Homo sapiens: one gene and its partners. The protein of the gene in region 3 interacts with the protein of the main gene of each other region in a biochemical or structural test. Each region holds a gene or a part of one and is shown on either strand. Other genes may lie near its edges.

Region 1 (3,655 bases), on a different chromosome or scaffold from region 3:
GGTGAAGACCAAAGCCCCAGGTGGGCTCCTTTCTGTCCCTGGGCTCTGAATCTACCTCTGCTTCTGGACAGATGAAGGCCCAGAACCTCTTTTCCTCCCTTGGTTTGTTTTCCCCTCTGTGAAACGGGCAGAGTGGCTCTTGCCCTGGTCGGTGACTGCTGCCCAGCAGGGCTTCTGCTAGTTTGAAGATGATAATTTAGCAACAGACCAGTCTATTGTCTCCCAGAGGACCTGGCCCATAGGAGTGAAAACACATTTCCATATGCCTCTGGCATTCCAGGCTCTGAAAGTAGAGTCTTTTGTTACACTTTGTGGTGTCCTCTGGGCCCCTGAATTTGCATACTCAAATGAGCCCTGCCCTTGGCATCTCCAGCAGGCCCAGCTGAGGCCCAGGCAGGGTCTCACTCAACTCCCACTATCCCTGGGCTCCTGCTGAGTAGGCTGAACTCCTTCACCTACTTTTGCACAGGCTGTTTCTTTTGTCTAAAAGACCTTTACCTTTTCTCTTCATCTACTGAACTTCTATTCATCCTTCAGGCTCGGCCTAGAGGCCACTTCCTCCAGGAAGCATTCTCTGATTGCTCCTGGACCAGGCTAAATGCTCTAGCTATGCACTCTAATACCACCCCGTCCTTACACTCTGTTTTCCCAGACATCAGAGAGAGCATGAGAGAGGACAGAAGTGAAAAAACTGCTTAGGCTGGGGGTGAGAGGAGCTGCAAGGGGCGTGGGGAACATGAGAAAGAAAATTAGGTTTTCAGCAGTGTTTTTGCGATTTGTGAACATTATTTACTTTGTTAGATACTGTGCTCTTTTGACTCAGCCAGGACCACTTGGGTCATGGTCTCTAAGAGATTTGGTTATTTAATACTCATCTTCCCACCTGGATTGTGAACTCTATTAGGACAGGAACATTTTCATTTTGTTCACTGCTATATCCCCCATAATTAGCACAGTAACTTGTGCAAGCCACTTAACCACACTGGGGCTCAGTTTCCACATCTGTACTTTACTTCTGCTCTATGCTTCAATTTCCTATTCTGTAAAATGGGATGATAATTACCTACTCTGTGGCCAGACTGTTACATTGAGGGGGTCCCTGGGATTTGTGTCCTTGGTCAGTCCCCTCCCACACTGATTCTGGGCATGGCTATGTGACTTGGCCAATGGGCCATTAGCAAGCCTGATGCAGGCAGAGGCTTAATGAGAGCCTGCTCATGAAGGCTTGGCCCCTGGTCCAGCTCTGTCTTGGAACCCAGCTGCTGCGCCGTGAAGAAGCTCAGGCTGGGTGATTGGGTGGTGAGGGGCTATGTGGAGAGACCCTGGAGGCTGAGCCATGTCTTGGACATTCTAGCCTGGGCAAGTGCCAACATCTGCACCTCACTTTACCATGACGAGCAGAAGAACCACCCAGCTGAACCCAGGCAACCCACAGGATCATGAGAAATAACAATTGCTGTTGTTTCAAGCTACTAGGACTTGGATGGTTTGTTATACCAAAATAGATAACAAAAATCCCAGCCTATAAAGCTTATAGGATGATTAAATGAATGAGTACATGTATAATAAAATATATGCAAAAAACATAGTTTTATACTGAGCTCTCAATACATTTTACCCATTATTATTACTGCTATCATCATAGTATGTGGTCAGTAAATATTTGGCAAGTAAAAAAATCGAATTCCTGTTTCCCTTCCCCGTTTCCTCGTTAGGCTCTCACCTGGGCTGAGAAGTCAATGAGTTTTGGCAATGGCTGCTTGCTGCCCTCATCACTTTTCAGAAAGTCCAGCAAGCTTCCTATATGGGGGAGAGGGGAGGAACATTTACTACTTTTACTATTTAATGGCAAAAACCACAATTACTTTTGCACCAATCTAGTACTTTAGTGTGTGGTGAAGATTTTTCATAGTAGTAGATTTAAATACGAATATTTGTTTGCAATTCCTAGTGTTTGAGAAAGAGAATTGAGTTTTAGTGAAGTGACTTTTTGATTGCTAGATGGATTCTGTGACTGAGACAGCCCCTGAGCCTGGATGGCTGGGATCATGCCTTCACAGGACTGGCATAATTGCATAGTTAAAATGAAAAAGGCTTGAGGTTTCAAATCGCACTAAATGGGATTGCATGAGATGATTCTGTTTATCAAAAAATGGGCAGAGTGGCTAGGCACGAGGCTCACTCCTGTAATTCCAACACTTTAGGAGACCGAGGTGAGAGGATCACCTGAGGCCAAGAGTTTGAGACCAGCCTGGGCAACATCGCAAGACCCCATCTATAGAAGAAATTTACAAATATATATGTTAGGCCAGGCTCAGTGGTTCATGCCTATAATCCCAAAGCTTTGGGAGGATCAGTTGAACCCAGGAGTTTGAGACCAGCTGGGGCAAGATGGCGAGACCTTGTCTCTAGAAAAAAATTTTAGAAGCTGGGCGCAGTTGCTCACGCCTGTAATTCCAGCATGGTGGGAGGCTGAGGCGGGCGGATCACAAGGTCAGGAGATTGAGACCATCCTGGCTAACACGGTGAAACACCGTCTCTACTAAAAATACAAAAAAATTGGCCAGGCATGGTGGCAGGCACCTGTAGTCCCAGCTACTTGGGAGGCTGAGGCAGGAGAATGGCGTGAACCTGGTAGGTGGAGCTTGCATTGAGCCGAGATTGTGCCACTGCACTCCAGCCTGGGAAACAGAGTGAGACTCTGTCTCAAAAAAAAAAAAAATTTTTTTAGAAATTAGCTGGGTGTGGTAGTGCATGCCTGTAGTGCCAGCTACTGGGGAGACTAAGTCGGGAGGATCCTGGAGCCTGAGAGTTTGAGGCTACAGTGAACTATGATCACGCCACTGCACTCCAGCCTGGGTAGGCAGAGGGCAACCCTGTCTCTAAAAATAAATATGTAAATAAATAAATAAAATTAGCTGAGTGTGGTGGCATGGGCCTGTGGTCCCAGCCACTCGGGGGGCTGGGGTGGGAGGATCACTTGAGCCCAGGAGTTATGATTGCACCTCTGCACTCCAGCCTGAGTAACAGAGCAAGTTCCTGTCCCTAAAAAACAAACAAACAAAAAATGGCAGGGGTTGAAAATGGTTGTGAAACAGTGGCCTAAAAAAATTCCCCAAGAAATCCTGAGTTGTGGCAGGGCGGGGGTGGGGGCAGAACTGCTGCTTTGCCAGCTCCCTCTCCCAGGGCTTTGGCAAGTACAGGGAAGGTGGCTGATGCGGGAGAGTGGCACCCCCACCACCCATGCCACACCCTGGCCTCTAAGGCTCACTGTGAACCATAAGCCCCTTCTCCCATTGCCCAGGAGTATTCTGGCCCCATTCCCTTCTCCTGGTAGCCCCTTGTTCTCCCTTCCCCTTGGTGACCCCTTAACATGATTTCACCCCACTAACCAGGAGGGCTGGATTGTTCCACATTAGATTCTCAATGAGTACTTGTTGGAAGAGCTCCTGGCCAGATTGGGGCCATCTCAAGGGCAAGAACCATGTCCAAGCCACCCTTGGGCCCGCAATTGACCAGTATAGGCCACAGCCTGCACCCCCAGCCCCAGCACGCAGCACCTTTGGCCATGAACTCCGTGATGATGTAGATGGGCTCCTTGGTGACCACCGCATGAAGTTTGACCAGCTTGTCATGCTGCAGAGTTTTCATCACG
Region 2 (3,655 bases), on a different chromosome or scaffold from region 3:
ACCTGTATTTGGCTACAATGTGATATAAATGGCATAAAATAATAGGAAGACCAAGTGCAAGTGGTTCCTTGACTTTTTAAACTGTAGTACCAAAGTCTTTATTCAAACTGTCTGGGAATCCTTAATTCACATTCTGATATTTAAAAAAAATAATACATGGTGTTAAAACACCAGGAGAACAATTTGATATAAAAATAAAAGCATTTCTTTCTACATTTTAGCATGGAAATAACCAGCCTGCAAGAACTGGCACACTGTCGAGAACAAATCCTCCTACTCAGAAACCGCCAAGTCCTCCCATGTCAGGCCGGGGAACACTGGGGTAAGAATTCAACTACATTTTGCAAAAGAATTCATATGCTAAAGGAAAAGATGTTTCTGTGACTTAAGTAAGTGTATGGGATCCATGCCACACTACCCTCTCTATGTGACGCTACCTTTTACAAATTCATTTTAATTCCTATTTTCCTGAACAGAATCCCAAATGAATCTGCCAGCTTTGTAATATTCTCTATAATCTGTACTAGGAAAGTTTTTATGTATGTATAAATGGCATGATTTATTTTTTTGTCATCTAATTTTTAAAAAATATAAATCTGACTTGTTTGTTTTAAATGGAATGATTAGAGTATTCCAAATGGTGCCTTTGCATGTGTTTACAGTATCTATATTGTAGAACTTTGACTAGTGGTCTACTTTTGTGTAGTATGGCTTAGTCCACAGCTCTTCTGTTTCGCCTATTGGTGTCTGAGACTTAGGGACTCTTTACTTTAGGAAAGTATGCACTTTACTTGTAACTATGCTTCTGCTGGTAATCTTAGGCCTCTTCACACTAGAGTAGCTCCATGGGAAGGCCAGTTGGGCAAGTAGAAAAGATAACAGTGGCTTCTTCCTTCCTAGTTCTCAGTGTACTAAATATAGCGAATACTTGTCAAAGCATTATATTTCTTTAAGGTTGTTTTTCTTAATACTGGAAATATTATATTGGATTTCTTATTTTTTGGCAGAGGGGTTGTTCAACAATCAGTCTTCTTTTAAGAAGGTCTTAGTTTTCATTTTTATTCATTAAACCCTCTGCCCCTGAAAAAAAAAATGAAGTTATTAAACAGAATAGTCGAAATCATTTATTGAGAAAGTAATGATTAGAATGTATATCTCCATTTATTGCCATATTGAGATGGGAATAAATTGCAGCTTCCTATGTAAATAAATTTAGCTTCCTGTTTAAAGAACAGTGGCTTATGGGTGACTGTACTGAGAAAAATGTACATTTTAAAGTTTGCTATTATTGAGCATTTAAAAAATTATAACCATAATTTTTAGAAATAAGGTTAGGACTTTAAATTACCCTTTCCTATGTTTTTCCTAGGAAAAGGTAACAAATTTTAGTTTTCATGTTAAAGTAACAAAATTCATATATCCCAGTGAAGAATATTTTTTAAAATTACAAACTTTGTCATATATATTTTTAAATCCTGGTATACATGGTCACAAAGGGAGACTCACATATTTTTGGGAAAAATACAATTTTATCTTTTTTATTCATTATTCCTTTCTCCACTATGCTCCTTTAGACGGAATACTCCTTATAAAACCCTGGAACCTGTTAAACCCCCAACAGTTCCTAATGACTATATGACCAGTCCTGCTAGGCTTGGAAGTCAGCATAGTCCAGGCAGGACAGCATCTTTAAATCAGAGACCAAGGACACACAGGTAAGCCTTTAGGTTGAGTATCTCAACATCTCTAAAGTGGGTGTAACTGACTGGCGACAAACTCCTATGGAGGTGCTGAGTAAAGGTGAGGTGCCACTCTAATGCTAATATAAAATGTAAAAGTTGGGGGAATAATATTATATATGTTCCTGTAAGTTTGTGTTATAACTTCTGTTTTGTTTTGTTTTTTTAACTTTTTAAAACATCTATTTGTACTATTAATGGATTGTTTGTATTTCCTCCTTTTGATAGAGGTACAGACTCTATCAGACTCTACGGGTTAAGACTAAAGAATTTTTTTCTTTTTTTTTTTGTGACGGAGTTTTGCTCTCGTTGCCCAGGCTGGAGTGTAGTGGTGCGATCTCGGCTCACTGCAACCTCTGCCTCCCAGGTTCAAGCGATTTTCCTGCCTCAGCCTCCCAAGTAGCTGGGATTACAGGCCTGAGCCACCACGCCTGGCTAATTTTGAGTTGAGACGGGGTTTCTGCATGTTGGTCAGGCTGGTTTCCAACTCCCAACCTCAGGTGATCCTCCTGCCTCGGCCTCCCAAAGTGCTGGGATTACAGGTGTGAGCCACTGTGCCCAGCCCTAAGAATGTTTTAAAATGCTCTTTTAAAAAAATTCAAGGCAAACCACTCAAATACTTTTGGAGAAAAGATTAAATATCATAGGAATTATACAACGTGATTTAAACTTTCAGAGATTGAAGGAAAGAAGATTAAGCTTAAATCTGAGGGAGATTTTTTTAAGAGAATCAGTATACTAGAATATGTTGTTATAATAATAATATTATTATTATCTTTTTGGAGATGGAGTCTAGCTCTGTCACCCAGGCTGGAGTGCAGTGACGCGATCTCGGCTCACTGCAACTTCTACCACCCAGGCTTAAGCAATTCTCCTGCCTCAGCTTCCAGAGTAGCTGGGATTACAGGTGCATGCCACCACGCCTGGCTAATTTTTGTATTTTAGTAGAGATGAGGTTTCACCATGTTGCCCAGGCTGGTCTCTAACTCCTGACCTCAGGTGATCCACCCACCTCGGCCTCCCAAAGTGTTGGGATTACAGGCATGATCCACCGCTCCTGGCCTTGTATTTATTATTTTTAAATGTCCTAAAAGTCAATTACCCGGTGGGTTTTTAAAAATTTAGTTACAGAGCATAACAAGCATTCAGAAAAGTATCCACTTCAGTAAGTATACAGCTTGATGAATGGACACACACTCATATAACCATCACCCAGATCAGAAAATGGAACATTACCAGCAACCCAGAAGCCCCTCATGCTCCTTCCTGGTTATCGCCTCGACCTTCTTCCCCCAAAATATAGCCACTTCAATTTTTGAGTGCTTTATAAAACCAGATAAATTTATTATATAACCAAATTTGTTTTATTCTTCAGTTTTCTCTCTCACTTAATAACGTGGGCAGGGAACCTCTCTTTTGCCTTCACTCTTAGGTTGGTAAATGAGAGATAACTTATCAAAATGATTTATGGGAATTCCACTAAATAGGGTATATCAAGATGCGAGATGCTAGGTAAGCGGTATTTATTACTATTGGTGCTGTTAGTAAACAAATTGTTAAGTTGATATCTGCAGTTACTGTATCAGGTCAAGTTCTTTGAGGAACAAAATTGTTCTCTTTGTTGTTATTGAACTCTTGGATCAAAGTATAGTTTTTCTCTATAGTGGAAGCATAGTTTAATCATATTCAACAAGCAGTTATTAAGTGTTGTTTCATTAGATACTAGGCATTTGTCAATAGGGCATAGTTCTTTTTTCAAGAGCTCATTCTGTTAGAACAGGGATCAGCAAACTTTTTCTATAAAGGGCCAGATTGTCAATATTTTAGGATTCGTGGGCCATATATATGGTTTCTGATGCAATTACTCAGATCTGTCATTGTAGCACAAAAGCAGCCATTGACAATACGTAAATGAA
Region 3 (3,655 bases):
AATATGTACAATGGAAAATACTAGTTACAAGCTGAATTAACTATATTCTTAAGAAAAAAGGTAGGTGATCAAAATGTTGATCATTTAAATAATATCAGTACACAAAGTACTCTTTTTAAGTTCTATATTTTATAACATGTGACAAAATAAAAAGCTTAATGCTTAAAGGGAAAAAAAACTGCCAACTATAATTTTGAATGATGGTTTAAGTATTTTTTTCACATCTTTTTTTATAGTAGGTATAAACAACTAACTTAAGTGTTGTTTTCCAAAGTGTATTTATATGCCTACCTTATGTTCTTGTTACCATAAATGTCTGTAAGAGAGGTTCTAATTAGTAGCTTTACTTACTTTTTTTGTGCCAGTCCACCAACTTATTCTTAAATCAGATTCACTAGATTTTAGTGTAATTTCTGTTTTCATGGTCAGGGCTGCCTCCGTTGTCTTGAATAGTGCCATCACCGTTAAAATTTTTGGATTTAGAGTATAATGAGCCTCTTTTTGCTTACAGGCAAAGGGGAGCCTATAACTAAACAAAATGAGGAGAGGCCCCTCACCTAGACACTATGATTCTTTCCCTTGCATCCTTTGAGAGAAATGCTAGGGAGAGACATTGGAGAGAGTGGTTAAGAGCACACACTCTACTCCCAGGGACTATCCAGTAAGGTGGGGAAGTTCTATAAATTCTAATAAAGTCAAAGAAAAAAATGAACCCATTATAGAATCTAAAAATTACCATTCCAAAGATTTTCAGTAGCTCACTGTCTCCCAGACATCTGAGAATCAGACTCAATTAAAAATTTCAATAATAGAGTAACCATGGGAATGTTATTTTGTTCAGGCAAAATAACAGAATACCTTAGGCAGCTTTTTTCTAAATATTCTGCTAAAAAATGTCTGCATGCTTTTATGGCAGTTTGCTTTAATGAAATACTATTCGGTATTGGTTTATTGAACAGCTTTTGGTATTTCTACACATTACTTTTAATTATAAGCAATTTCCAGCTAAGACTTTTCAAGGTAAATAAATGAAATAAAATTCCTGTGGACTTTTTCTTAAAAATTTAACATCCCACAGGATCTGCTTCTGTATCATCTATAAGTTTAACCAAAGGCACTGATGAAGTGCCTGTCCCTCCTCCTGTTCCTCCACGAAGACGACCAGAATCTGCCCCAGCAGAATCTTCACCATCTAAGGTAAAGTAAGAAATCTTGTTGTGTAGAAATTGGAATCATTACAGTTCATTATAATAAACGGCTGTCTAGTTTAGTTCTCACTAGGATAAGTTAACATTTCAGAGTATACAGGCTTAATAGTTTAAACAAGGATTACATATAGATTTAGCATGCAGTAATGTTTCTTTCTTCTGAAGGTAGTTTTTTGGTATGCATTCAAGACCCTTGTAAACCTAAGGCTATGGTTATTTTCAGAAAAAAACAAAAGTTTTAATCTGTAAAGTAAGAGGAATTTGGTTTCAAGCAGTTCTTTAAAAGCATACAGAGAAAGTCCTGAAGCTTTGTATGAAGGCACATTATAAGTCAAACTGTATTTTGACATATGCTAAAATTTACTTATCTGAGCCCTTAATAGTAAATCTGACATACTTTTAAATGGAGTTTTCATGAAAATTCTGGGTTTGGAAGAGACCCCAAAGGCTCAAAATAGCTATTATTTCTACTTATTTAATTTTGTTTTTTTCTTTTTGGCCAGCTGTTAAACTTAATTCATTAGTTCTTAAGCTGTCCAGAGTGCAGAGCACCAGGATAAGTCAAGACAAGACACTCTTTGTAGAACTTCATGAATGTTAACATAGTTAACTTAAAATTATAAAATAGGTACTTTATGCTAAATTAGAAATGATCTTAGATTGAGTGATAAGCTAAGCAAGCAGTAGCAAACAAAATTTTGAGGAAAAAAATTTAAGTAAAAACTACGGCAAACTTTTTTTTTCTATGAATTGACAGAACCTCCCATTTAAAACATATGCCAGCCTTGGCAACAGAGCAAGACCTTGACTCTACAAAAAATGAAAAAAATTAGCCAGGCATGGTGGTACATGCCAGTGGTCCTTGCTGCTTGGGATGCTGAGGTCGGGGGATCACTTGAGCCCAGGAAGTTGAGGCTACAGTGAGCCATGATTGCACCACTGCACTCCAGTCTGGGCAATAGAGCAAGGCATTGTCTCAAAAAAAAAAATTTTTTTTTAATTAAAAAGAAAACATATGGCAAAACTCCCTGTTCCACACTTAGCATCCTGCCAATAGCATGTTTGAAAACCCCAACTTAATTCTTATAGTCATGATACTTCATAAATTTATTAATAAATGTGTATTTTATTCTTTTCATTTGTTAGATTATGTCTAAGCATTTGGACAGTCCCCCAGCCATTCCTCCTAGGCAACCCACATCAAAAGCCTATTCACCACGATATTCAATATCAGACCGGACCTCTATCTCAGACCCTCCTGAAAGCCCTCCCTTATTACCACCACGAGAACCTGTGAGGACACCTGATGTTTTCTCAAGCTCACCACTACATCTCCAACCTCCCCCTTTGGGCAAAAAAAGTGACCATGGCAATGCCTTCTTCCCAAACAGCCCTTCCCCCTTTACACCACCTCCTCCTCAAACACCTTCTCCTCACGGCACAAGAAGGCATCTGCCATCACCACCATTGACACAAGAAGTGGACCTTCATTCCATTGCTGGGCCGCCTGTTCCTCCACGACAAAGCACTTCTCAACATATCCCTAAACTCCCTCCAAAAACTTACAAAAGGGAGCACACACACCCATCCATGCACAGAGATGGACCACCACTGTTGGAGAATGCCCATTCTTCCTGAGTTCCTCTGTACTGGGATGTATATTTTCCTAGCCCCAAATCCATTGCTGGCAATGGATGCACTGAATGTGCCAGCACTGAGGAGTTAAAATGAGAACTCCAAACACTAACGACTCTTCTTCAAGATGCAGTATAAGACAATGAATTTTAACCTAGATGTAATTATACAATGGAAATGGTATTCCAGTTTAGAATATGGAAAGACCGACCTAGAGGAATTGGACAACTGATTGCACCTGAAAATCATAAAGGGACTTTTTCTGGCCAATAGGCAGGAGTCCTCTTTTTGTGAAGTGATCTTTTGTGAAGTGATCATTAAAGGGATGGAAAACACAGTCTAGTGTCCAGCAGGCCCACATGACAGTTTTTGTAATTCAAATTATGCACTTTTAAAAAAAAAAACTTAAACAGGGATCTTAATATCTTCCTTTGTTTTCCTTTGCTTTACTCTTCTACTTTAGAATATTTTCTTAAAAATCACTCAAAGGACTGTGAGGAAAGGCTGTGGTACCTGACCTTGTTGAAATCAAGGCCCGGCACTGTACTACAGGCCTGTTTACAGATTATTACGGTGAACTGAATGGGTACCGAGGCTTCACCAAAGAGGTACTTTTTTGTTGTTGTTGTTGTTTTAGGAATAATTGTACCAATTTTAAGAGCATTCCCCCCACCTGTCCCCACACACCCAAACAAAATGTGGTGGTGTTGCCTTCAAAAAAGAGAAGTTTTGTGTCATTAACATGACAGAAGAACTTTTTAAAAAAAAATAACTGTCAACTATTCTATTTGCATTTAGGAGACTGTTCATCT

Evidence for each region.
Region 1: the proteins of SOS1 (region 3) and HCK interact in a biophysical measurement, tested with the Homo sapiens proteins (one study listed by IntAct).
Region 2: the proteins of SOS1 (region 3) and ABI1 form a complex in vitro, tested with the Homo sapiens proteins (one study listed by BioGRID and IntAct).

What each region holds. Positions count from the first base shown.
Region 1 is NC_000020.11:32,086,713-32,090,367, reverse strand, and holds part of HCK (tyrosine-protein kinase HCK), read right to left. Parts: coding exon 3,561-3,655; intron 1,801-3,560; coding exon 1,724-1,800; intron 1-1,723. UniProt on the Homo sapiens protein: Non-receptor tyrosine-protein kinase found in hematopoietic cells that transmits signals from cell surface receptors and plays an important role in the regulation of innate immune responses, including neutrophil, monocyte, macrophage and mast cell functions, phagocytosis, cell survival and proliferation, cell adhesion and migration.
Region 2 is NC_000010.11:26,766,912-26,770,566, reverse strand, and holds part of ABI1 (abl interactor 1), read left to right. Parts: intron 1-221; coding exon 222-322; intron 323-1,574; coding exon 1,575-1,715; intron 1,716-3,655. UniProt on the Homo sapiens protein: May act in negative regulation of cell growth and transformation by interacting with nonreceptor tyrosine kinases ABL1 and/or ABL2. May play a role in regulation of EGF-induced Erk pathway activation. Involved in cytoskeletal reorganization and EGFR signaling.
Region 3 is NC_000002.12:38,985,015-38,988,669, reverse strand, and holds part of SOS1 (son of sevenless homolog 1), read left to right. Parts: intron 1-1,078; coding exon 1,079-1,197; intron 1,198-2,354; coding exon 2,355-2,846; 3' UTR 2,847-3,306; coding exon of another isoform or gene 3,307-3,360; 3' UTR 3,361-3,655.